2 separate regions of the Homo sapiens genome follow, and region 2 is linked to region 1. The links come from fine-mapping of genetic effects on gene expression. A gene starts in region 1. The other region holds a variant in brackets. All regions are shown on one strand. Distances are from middle to middle. Region 1 holds the start of ESPNL (espin like). Region 2 overlaps ESPNL (espin like).

The links. PIP is the estimated chance that this variant, and not a neighbour inherited with it, causes the effect.
Region 2: its variant is fine-mapped to the expression of ESPNL in fibroblasts (GENCORD, PIP 0.95).

What each region holds. Positions count from the first base shown.
Region 1 is chr2:238,098,394-238,103,470 of GRCh38, reverse strand. It overlaps ESPNL (espin like), which reads right to left and starts at 3,131. Exons shown (of 9, transcript NM_194312.4): 1 at 2,758-3,131; 2 at 1,340-1,530. The coding sequence starts at 3,051. SCLY (selenocysteine lyase) reads right to left here. Exons shown (of 12, transcript NM_016510.7): 12 at 4,058-5,077. UBE2F-SCLY (UBE2F-SCLY readthrough (NMD candidate)) reads right to left here. Exons shown (of 19, transcript NR_037904.1): 19 at 4,058-5,077. RefSeq lists enhancers at 754-923, 4,689-4,983, 4,618-5,077.
Region 2 is chr2:238,123,386-238,128,462 of GRCh38, reverse strand. It overlaps ESPNL (espin like), which reads right to left. Exons shown (of 9, transcript NM_194312.4): 6 at 3,079-3,193; 7 at 729-841. Among named protein-coding and RNA genes, the nearest start is that of KLHL30, 13 kb to the left of the region's middle. RefSeq lists a silencer at 999-1,058. The variant C/GAC (reference allele first, on the strand shown) is at 2,093.

The sequences.
Region 1 (5,077 bases):
GTGCATATTAACATGAAGCCTCCTGGTTTTCTTCTTTTTTTTGAGACATGGTCTTGCTCTATCGCCCAGGCTGGAGTGCAGTGGCACAATCCCAGCTTACTGCAACCTCCGCCTCCCAGACTCAAGTGATCCTCCCACCTCAGCCTCCTGAGTTGCTGGGACTACAGGCAGTCACCACCATGCCTGGCTAATTTTTAAATAAATTTTTTTGTAGAGATGGAGGTCTCGCTACATTGCCCAGGCCAGTCTTGAATTCCTGGGCTCAAGCAATCCTCCAGCCCCAGCCTCCCAAGATGCTGGGATTACAGGCATGAGCCACTGTGCTCGGCCCAAGTCTCCCAGTTTTCAATGGTGGAAACTTCTTTAAAAGCCGTGTGGGTCTGAGAGAGACTGTGGCCAGCCAAGGCTGAGGGTGGTGTGGACGCTCTGGAGAAAAGCCACAGAAGCGAATCCCAAAGGCCTTTGCCAAGCAGTCCAGGATGGGAACACCCGGGAATGAGAACCCGATTCCACAAGCAAGCTGTCGGGGCTTGTCCTGGAGCTAAGGGGGTGTGGGGGACTGAGGCCTCTGGGGCAGCGACAGGAAAATGAGATGCTGCCTCGAAAAGAGAAGAGCCGTGGTCAGAGGTAGGTGGGTCCCTGGGGGACAGGAAGGTTCGCCCTCAGCCAAGACAGTAGGAGGCAGAGGGCCTGTTCCTATGACAACAGTGACCTTTGTAAGCAGGGCGAGGACTGGAGGAGCTTCCAGGTGGGGAGGGAGGCCATCTGCCTTACTGGCTGTCCTGACCCTGGTCCTTCCTCGTTGCCCATCCACTAATTCCAGCAGGGGGCACAGGGCCCCAGAGACGATGAGGCCAGCGCCCGGCTCTAGGGGTCCCAGCACAGGGGTGGGGCAGTGCAGAGGCAGCTCCAGCCTCTGTGTCCCCAAGTCCACTAGACAGTCCCCACTCCTGTCAGGTGATGGGAGGGTGCCCTCACAGGTTGCCAGCTGCCCACGTCCCCAGCTGTTTTAGGTCCCGAGATGCCCCCAGGTGGGGCCAGAGCTGCCCTGGGCATCACAGCAGCATCTTGCCATCGTCACCGCCCCCAGCCACTCTCCAAGCTGAAGCACTGGCCTGTGTCCCCTTGGGCCCTGGCATGGCACTGCCACTGCCTGGCCTGTGGGTAGAGGCCTCATTGCCCTTGGCTCCTGCCAGCTCACCCCCACAGTGACAGCATGCCCGCCTGCAGGATTCACCTCAAAGGCCACCAGCCTGTCCTCTTGGCCCTCCATGGTGCAGCCTCCCCTTGGCCAGCTCGCCCCAGGCTGCCCCCCCAGGCGGGACTTTGGGCTCCTTACCTGCCATGCGCGGCTGTCAGGAGCTTGAGGCAGGTCAGGTCCCCACTGACGGCAGCGTGGTGCAGCGGCCGGGCTCCCTCCCGGGTCTCTAGCGTGGCCGAGTGGCCCTCGTGGAGCAGCCACTCCACCAGCACTGGGTGTCCAAAACGGGCGGCCAGGTGCAGCGGGGAGACGCCCGAGGCATCTTGGTCCTACCAAGCCCCGGGTAGGTCAGTGAGTGGGGGGTAGGCCGTGAGGTCAGAGCCAGCTGCCGGAGGTGGGCCCTGGGCGAGGGCTCACACTGCCTGCAACCCAGTGAAGGGGCTTCCAGCTCCTTCCTCCTTCCCTCCGTTTCTGCCTGCAACATGGAGGGAGGTGCTCCCTGCTGGGACTGAGGTGAGAGGAGGGCCAGGACTCAGGTCCAGGTCTTGGGAGGCCACCTCTGGCAACCCTGCCCTCTCCTGGGCCCGTCCCCAGTGTGGAGAAGGCCCTTTCCCACGCAGTCGGGTGCCCGCAGACACCTGCCCACTCTGCTCATGGTCAGAAAGGCTTCCCAGGACACCTACCTCTGGCTGGTCCCCTGCCCCAGTGCCCTCCCGCTGGCCACAGGGTCCCGGGGCCAGGGAGCGTTCCTACCACAGGTGTCAGGGGTCCAGCAGACCTGGGCCTTCTCCAAGGGCCCTGTCAGAATGGATCCCCAGGCAGGCACAGCTCCCGCCTGCTGCCCTTGGGTTTGGCGGAAGGGCCGACAGGAACAGGATGCTGGGCCGGGACTCTCAGGTGCTCTGGCGAGCCAGGTGCTGGGGAACCTTCCCGCTCCGCAGTCTAAGCAGGCCCCACCGGCCCCCACCTCAACTCTGACCTCTGGGCGGCGGCGTTCTAAGGCCGGTCAGTCCTGCTCACCCTCAGCCCTGAAAGCTCCACAGGGCTGAGCGACAGCTCTAAGGGCCTCGCCTGCACAAAGGGGACTGGGCAGGCAGGATAGGGGAGGGGGGCCCAGTAGAAACGATCCGGACAAGACGATCACCATCAGCAGCCCTAACTCCCGTCCCCCAGGGCTAGGCTCCCAGCTCTCAAGCCCAAGTTCCCACAGTGCTTCTGTAAGGATCCCTTTCTAGACCCTTTGGGAGGCAGGCCCTGTGGACCAGGCCTGATCAGAGACAGGGGTCCTGATATCTGGCAAGACCCCCACTGGCAACGCCCAGCTTCCTGGCAGGGAAGGTGATAAGAAAATTTAGGAGGTGTTCTTGGCTCTCAAGCCTTTGTGCTCTGAGAGGCGTGGGGCAGAGACGGTAACCACTGACTGAGTCCCCAAGAGAAACAAAGGGCCCAGGGCCATGGAGCCCGGGGTGGCCAGTACTCTGATCCTCCGTGGCTCACACCTCCCTGGTTCCACCCCAGCCAGCTTCGTGGAGCCAGGCTGCCCCATCCCCGCTCACCTGCAGACCGCAGCCCCCCTCGCGGACCAGCCAGCACAGCTCGGCCAGGCTGCCCGTGGCAGCGGCGTCATGCGCTGGGGTGGCCCCGTTGTGGGCCCGCTGGTTGCCGGGCAGCTGGGCCCGCTGCACCAAGAACTTGACGCAGTCCAGGTGGCCAGCCCGGGTGGCGTGGTGAACCAGGCCGGCCCCCAGAGCATCGGTGATGCCCGGGCCCAGGGCGCCAGCCTCCAGCAGCCGCTCCAACGTCGCCACATCCCCATCCTTGGCGGCCACGAGTGCCCGCTGCTTCTCCATCCTCTGGCCCGGGCTCTCAGTGGCGACTCATGCACAGGCTGGGGCTTCCTGTTTCAGACGTGGATGAAGCTGCCGGCTCTGGTTACCCGATAAGCTGCCACAGGGCAGATGGGAGGCGGTGGGGTGGGGTCGGGTGGGGGGACAGGCCTTGAGGACCTGCCCAAGCCACTCCCACAGTGTGAGGGTGCCAGGTGCCTGGAGCTGGGAGGATGGAGTACAGGGCACAGGGAAAGGCCCACACCAGGCTAGGTCAGGGCTGGGTATGGCCAGCAGAGAAAGGAGGCTGGCCCTGAGGCTGCTCAGATCTGTCCAGATGGCAGGAACTTCATCTGTGGAGCGAGGGCTGAGGATACACGCCACTGAGCTTCTCACAGGAGCCCCGAGTGGCCTGGGAGACAGTTCCCCCAACTCTCACAGAAGGGCAGACCCCCAGCCGCCACCACAGTGTGTCTGAAGTAAAGGGTGCCCAGTAGGTCTACATGTTTGGCTGTGTTGACACCCACAGAGCTGAGCGCCCCGCCTCTGGGTCCCGGCCCTCGGCCCTGGAGGCTCCTAGGAATCTCTGGGGACACAGTGGCTCCACGGGGCCTGCAATGGGCTCAGGACCCTGACTTGGGTGTGTCCAGGCCTCTGAGGCGAGAAGGTGTCAGCCCCTGCCTCGGCCCCCTCTCCAACTACACGGACCAAGTCTCTGGGCTGCAGCCCCAAGGGCCCAAGTACATTTAACCCCTTTCCAGATTGTTCTGGACAATCCATAGTTCTTCTTTAGGGAAGTCAGGACCACCACAGCCTCTTCCTGGCAGCAATGGGAAGCTGCAGATGGGGGACCCATTACATTTGTAGGGGCTTCCGGAGACACAGCCTCAAGCTGGATTTCTGGGCTAACGCATCATCACACAATGGTGACCTGGGGGCTGCTGCACCCCTGGCTTCCCCCCGACAGGCTCTGTCAGATGACTTTGTGCCCAAGCGCAGTGCCCACTAGAGAAACCACAGGATCCCCAAGTCGGGCACTGAAATCTTTTATTCGTTAATTTAGTTTCTGGCAAGTGTTTCCTCAAAATCATCAAGTAGTTCCTTGAACCGTAAAACCACACATTAAAAATGTTATTCCACTGAAAATGACTCCTATGCAAATATCGACATGTGATGTGTGTCCAAATGCCAGAGCATTTTGAGAAAAGAATCCTCTGCAAATAAAATTAAGGTAAAAGCTGAGTCAGGGATGATCCGATTCCCACCCCAGGAATGACCTGGAGCTGCACCAACTCAGCGAGGTTGGAGCTGAAACCCTGAGTTAATAATGATCAAAAGGGACAAGACAGGAAGGCCTGGGGACCGTGGACAGGGAAGTGCGCAGCCCTGATTGCCAGTGGGCGGAACAGGGTCAGGCTCGGGGAAGCAGGAGGGGTGGTGGGCGGTGGGCGCTGAGCAGAGCAGGCCTGGCCGAGGCTGGGGGCCACTGTGCACTGAGGCCAGAGGAGCAGGGTGGTGGGGGCAGCTTTGGAAAGGGACTAAAAAGGGCCTGAGAAGAGACCACTCTGGAAAGGTGCATGTAGAGGCCATGATCAAAACAAAAAAATCAAGTTTCCTACGTTCATGATAGCATTTGGCTGACAATGAGTTATAAATACTTGGATTCTATCTTCCAGATAAAAACACCTTCCAGGAAAGGGCACTCACAACAGGCGTGCCCAGTTCCCAGTGGGGAGGGTGGATAAAGCTAAGTGTTTCCGCTTCACCACTGGAGGACGGTTCTATGTGGGCGGTCCCATGTGGGCGGTCCCATGTGGGCGGTCCCATGTGGGCGGTCCTATGTGGGCGGTCCTATGTGGGCGGTCCCATGTGGGCAGTCCTATGCGGCGTTGGTGTCCTGGGCCCTGTGAGCTCTGCAGGGGTCCAGGGAAGGAAACTGGGGGTGCACACTCGCTGGCACTCCAGGACAAAATGCAGAGGGGGCATGAGACAGTCATCCTGGCACAGCCCTCAGGAGGGAACTGGAGGGACAACCCTGTGCCCTGCCACG
Region 2 (5,077 bases), 25 kb before region 1:
AAATGAAACCAGAGGTCCCTCCCCGTCCCCTGTGCAAGCCCAGCAGATGCTCGCGGAGCGCACCGTATCCCTGGGCAAACTTGCTCTGGGCACAGCTACATAGACAAAGCCTGGCAGCCAATCCTGTGCCGCGGAGGGCTTGTCAGAGCCTTCAATGTGCCGTGCGCGCTCCAGCTCTCCACGACGGGCAGCAGCGCCACGTGGCGTTTCCCAGACTCCCACCGAACACCTCAATGGTTGAGAATCTGCAGTACCACGCAGGGAAAGTCTGGGCTGGCTTTCTAAGGGCCCGGCGCCCAGGAAAGGGAGAGTAAGGGGGAGCAGGACCCTTCTGCTGGTCTGGGCTGGCCGAGGCCCTGAGGAGGAGGACGGTGGCAGCGGGGCCCTGCCCATGGATGGCTGCTGCGATCTCCGCACTCCAAGCGGGCACGGAGCACCCCTGAGCTCAGAGGTCAGGGAGAGGGGCCTGGGCCACTGCAGCCCTCTGGGATAACAGAGAAGGGTCCCCGTGTTTCTGTGGTGGGGGGGACAGCTGCCGTCGCCCTGACATTCCTGTCTCTTCAGAACTCAGGGTGTTCTCGAGAGCAGCGGAGTGACGCAGGCAGCCTGGCATCCACCCTTCAGGAAAGGCCTGGCTGTGCTGGGGGCTTCTCTGGGCCCCTAAGAGGATGGGAATGGAGGCTGGCTAGGGGCCCCGGGAGACAGGAATGCAGGGGTGGAGGACGAACCTCGGGGTCAGCCGTGGCACTGGTGATGATCCTCGGAGGGGCCGGGCTGGTCATCTGCTCCCTGGGAAGAGGCTGGTCAGGATGGCCAGGCCAGGCCGGGCTGAGGGACATGGCTGCCAAGAAGAAGAAGGGTGTTGCAGAAAGGGCAAGGGCTGGGGAGCAGAGACCCAGAGCCTCGGGGATCCGGCCCTGGGGGCAGAGCTGACCTCCTGAACGATCTGCGAGCTGGGAGCTGACCCCAGCCCACCCTGCCCCAGAACACCTCGGGGGCCCCACTGGACCTTCTCTGGGGAGTCAGTGGGGCCCGCCCCCGCCTGGTCGATGGGAGAGCCTGCGGCACACCGCTGGGCCACGCCGCGGCCCCTCCTGCAGCAGGGGAGGAGCTGGGAAGGGCTTGAGGCCGCCCCTAACGCAGCTCTGCAGGCCCCAAAGCTGGTTCCCTTGCTGCCTGCAATGCTCCCTGCCCCGATGAAAACACACACTTCAGGGTCAACCTCGAGTGAAGAACACGTCTGCATCACAGCCAGGCAGACACGCACAGACACAATCACACACAGACATGCACAGACACAATCACATACACACAACACAGACACAATCACACAGACACAGACACAATCACATCACATACAGACACAGACACAATCATACACACAGACACAATTATACACACAGATACAATCACAGAAACACACACAGAACAGACACACAAACACAATCACACACAGATACACAATCACACACAGATAGACACAATCACACACATACACACAGACACACAATAACAGTGACACACACAATCACAGACACACAGACACGATCATACACACACAATCACACAATCACACAGACATACAGACACAATCACACACGCAGACACAATCACACACAGATACAGTCACACACAGAGAAACACACAGACACAGAACAGACATACACAAACACAATCACACAGAATCACACACAGATACACAGACACAATCACAGATACACACAGACACAATCATACGCAGAGACACACAGACACAAGCATACACAGACACAATCACATACACACAATCACACAGACACAATCACAGACACAATCACACAGAAACACAGAACAGACACACAGACACGGACACAATCACACACAGATACACACAGACACAATCACAGACACACACAAACACAATCACACAGATACACACAGGCACAATCACACACAGATGCATAGACACAATCACACACAGAAACAGACAGAACAGACACACAATCACACAGATACACACAATCACATAGACACAATCACACACTGACACAGACACACAAACACAAACACACATACACAGGCATAATCATACAGAGACACACAATCACAAAGA[C/GAC]ACACACAGACACAATCACACACACAATCACATACAGACACACAGACACAATCACACACAGATACACAATCATGCACAGAAACACAAACACAATACACAGATGTACAGAACACACAATCACCATACACATACATACAATACAGACACAGACACAATCACAGAGAGACACAATCACAGACACGATCACACACTCGAACACAATCACACACAGATGCACACAGACACAATCACACAGACACAGACACAATCAATCACAGAGACACACAATCACATAGACATAGTCACACACAGACACACATGAACAATCACACACATACACACAGACATAATCACACAGACACACAGACACAGACACAACATACACAGATACACACAGACACAATCACACACAGACACAATCACACACAGAGAAGGGTCCCCGTATCTATGTGTATCACACACAGAACACACAGACACAATCACACACAGAAGCACACTCCCACATGTGAGTACAGGGCCGCAGCAGGGCCCGTGGAGGAAGCTCGCCCTCACTACCTGTGGCACCTGTTGATAATTCCATTCCACTCCACTCCACTCCACTCCACTCCACTCCACTCCACTCCAAGCTGGTCACAGACCCCTAATGGTGGTGGCCCACAGCGTGAGGACTGTTGCTTGCCCTGCTAGCCCATGCATGCGAGGTGTGCTGGGGTCTGAGGGACAGCAGCCCATCCACAAGGGGCCTGGGCCCAACCGGCCCGTCTCCCCGCTTTTACCCCTGGATAAGTTGCTGTAGCTGTAAGTGCCCACCACGGAAAATGCTAATCCTCATGTTTCCAAAGCACCAAAGACAGTCAAGGAAACCTGGAAGCAACTGGGGAGGGAGGGTGATGGGGTGCCCGGCTGCCCGCAGACTTGCCCACCGGTCCAGGACCTCGGAGGGGAGGCCAGTGGCACCCTCTCCCAGGCCCATGCCCTGGGTGGCCCACTTGGGGCTGTGCACTCACGGCTGGGGTTCCCTGGCCCTGGGCCTCCTCTTCTTCCATCCTCCAGGGAGCGCCTCGTGGCCAACAGTGGAGGTGGGGGGAACGGTGGTGGTGGGGGCGTCATCAGCAGGGGCACCTGTGGGTGAATGGGCCTGGTCAGTGGGGGACCCCCGTGGGCTCTTCCCTGCTCACCTAGACAGGGGCAGGGGCACCCAGTGGACGAGCCTTGGGGAGCCTGTGCATCTGAGAAGGGCTGGGACAGGTAAGGAGGTGGCAGGAGAGGGGCAGGTCCTTGATCAGGGTTCTGTCCCAGGGTCATCTCCTGCCTGAGTGCCATCACTTCCTGGCACCCCACCTTGGTTCCCCGCCCACTTTCACCTCTATTGGGTGGGCCACCCCCATCTCAAAGCTCAGCTTCCAGGCTCCCTCTGGAGGCAGCTGAGCTCTGGGGCTCCGGGTACTGGGTTAGGGCCTGGTTTCCAGCTGTGCCCAGCGCCCTGTGGTCTCACAAAGACATGTGCACACATATGCACACACACGCATGTATGCTCTCCTGCACACACATGCATGTACTCTCCTGCACACATGCACGTACACTCTCCTGCACACACACGCACGTACTCTCCTGCACACACGCATGTACACTCTCCTGCACACACATGCATGTACTCTCCTGCACACATGCACGTACTCTCCTGCACACACATGCACGTACTCTCCTGCACACACACACATGTACACTCTCCTGCACACATGCACGTACACTCTCCTGCACACACACGCATGTACCCTCCTGCACACACACGTACACTCTCCTGCACACACACACACGTACTCTCCTGCACACACGCACGTACACTCTCCCGCACACCCCCCTCCCCGACTGCCCTGACTCCTGTGCTGTGGTCCGCCTGGAACTTCAGCCCTGACATGGGGCCTGTCAGTGTCTTGGGGGTGGATGGCCAAGTGAGAAACCTGGTGAGGAGAGGGAAGGGCAGTGGACTAGGATGGGGTCCCCAATGTGCCCACCAGCCGAGGGCATGGGCAGCCCTTGTCCCCAGCCAGCAGGGCCGCATGCCACCGTCCCTCTGGGCACCTCCCCCACTGTGCCTGTCAGACCAAAGCTCTTGTCCCTGCCCTCCAGTGGGCACTGGAAGCCAGACGTGGCCATCAGGGCTCCAGGGTCAGTGCTAGTGAGAGCCCTGGGCAGAGCAGAGCACTCAAATCGGCCACGATTCTGGACATGTGGCCTGGGCCCAGGGCCCGTCGTGGGAGGGGGAGGGACCCATGCTGCAGCTTGCTCGAATGCACGGCTGTCTCTGCCTTCAAATTCGTTCTCCTTTCCGAATGCAGGGCCCCCATTTTCCTGCTGCACCGGGGCCGGACTGCAGTGAAGTTGGCCCTGCCTGAGCAAATCTCTGGCCTCCCTAAGCCTCCCTTGCTCATGGACAAGGTGGCACAGGCTGCCTCCCAGCAAGGATGCTGGGTGGCCCCTCGGCCACCTCCCCTCCAGGACCCTCACCCCACTGGGCCACGGGGAAGGGAACACAGTCTGAAAGCCCATCTGCCCGGCCCCCACGCACCTCACTCCTTCCAGGAATCTGTGCCCACAGCCCAGGAACCCTGGTGCGCGGTGGGCTGGGGAGCAACCGCCCAGCCCCAGCCCCGGAGGCCCTCAGACGCGAACTGCAGAGTGCAGGGAGCACAGCTGTCCTGGGACACCGGGGGCTGCTGAGGCTGCCGCCCCCAGGAGTGGGAGGTGTCACATGAATATTTGAAGGCCGAGGTGTCAGGTGGCCAGGCGGGCTTGGGCCGGGTGTGGGATCTGTTACCACGGAACCTTTAACTGTCCACAGAGCAGGGGCCGGGGAGGGGATGCTCTGGGAGATGGAAGGGGACCTGAGATCCCTGGGCCCCATGAGAAGAGAGACCACCCAGAGGAATCCCCAGCCCCACCTACGGTACGGCCCCCAGGGCACAGATGGGGAAATTGAGGCTCAGAGAGGGCAAGGGGCTTTCT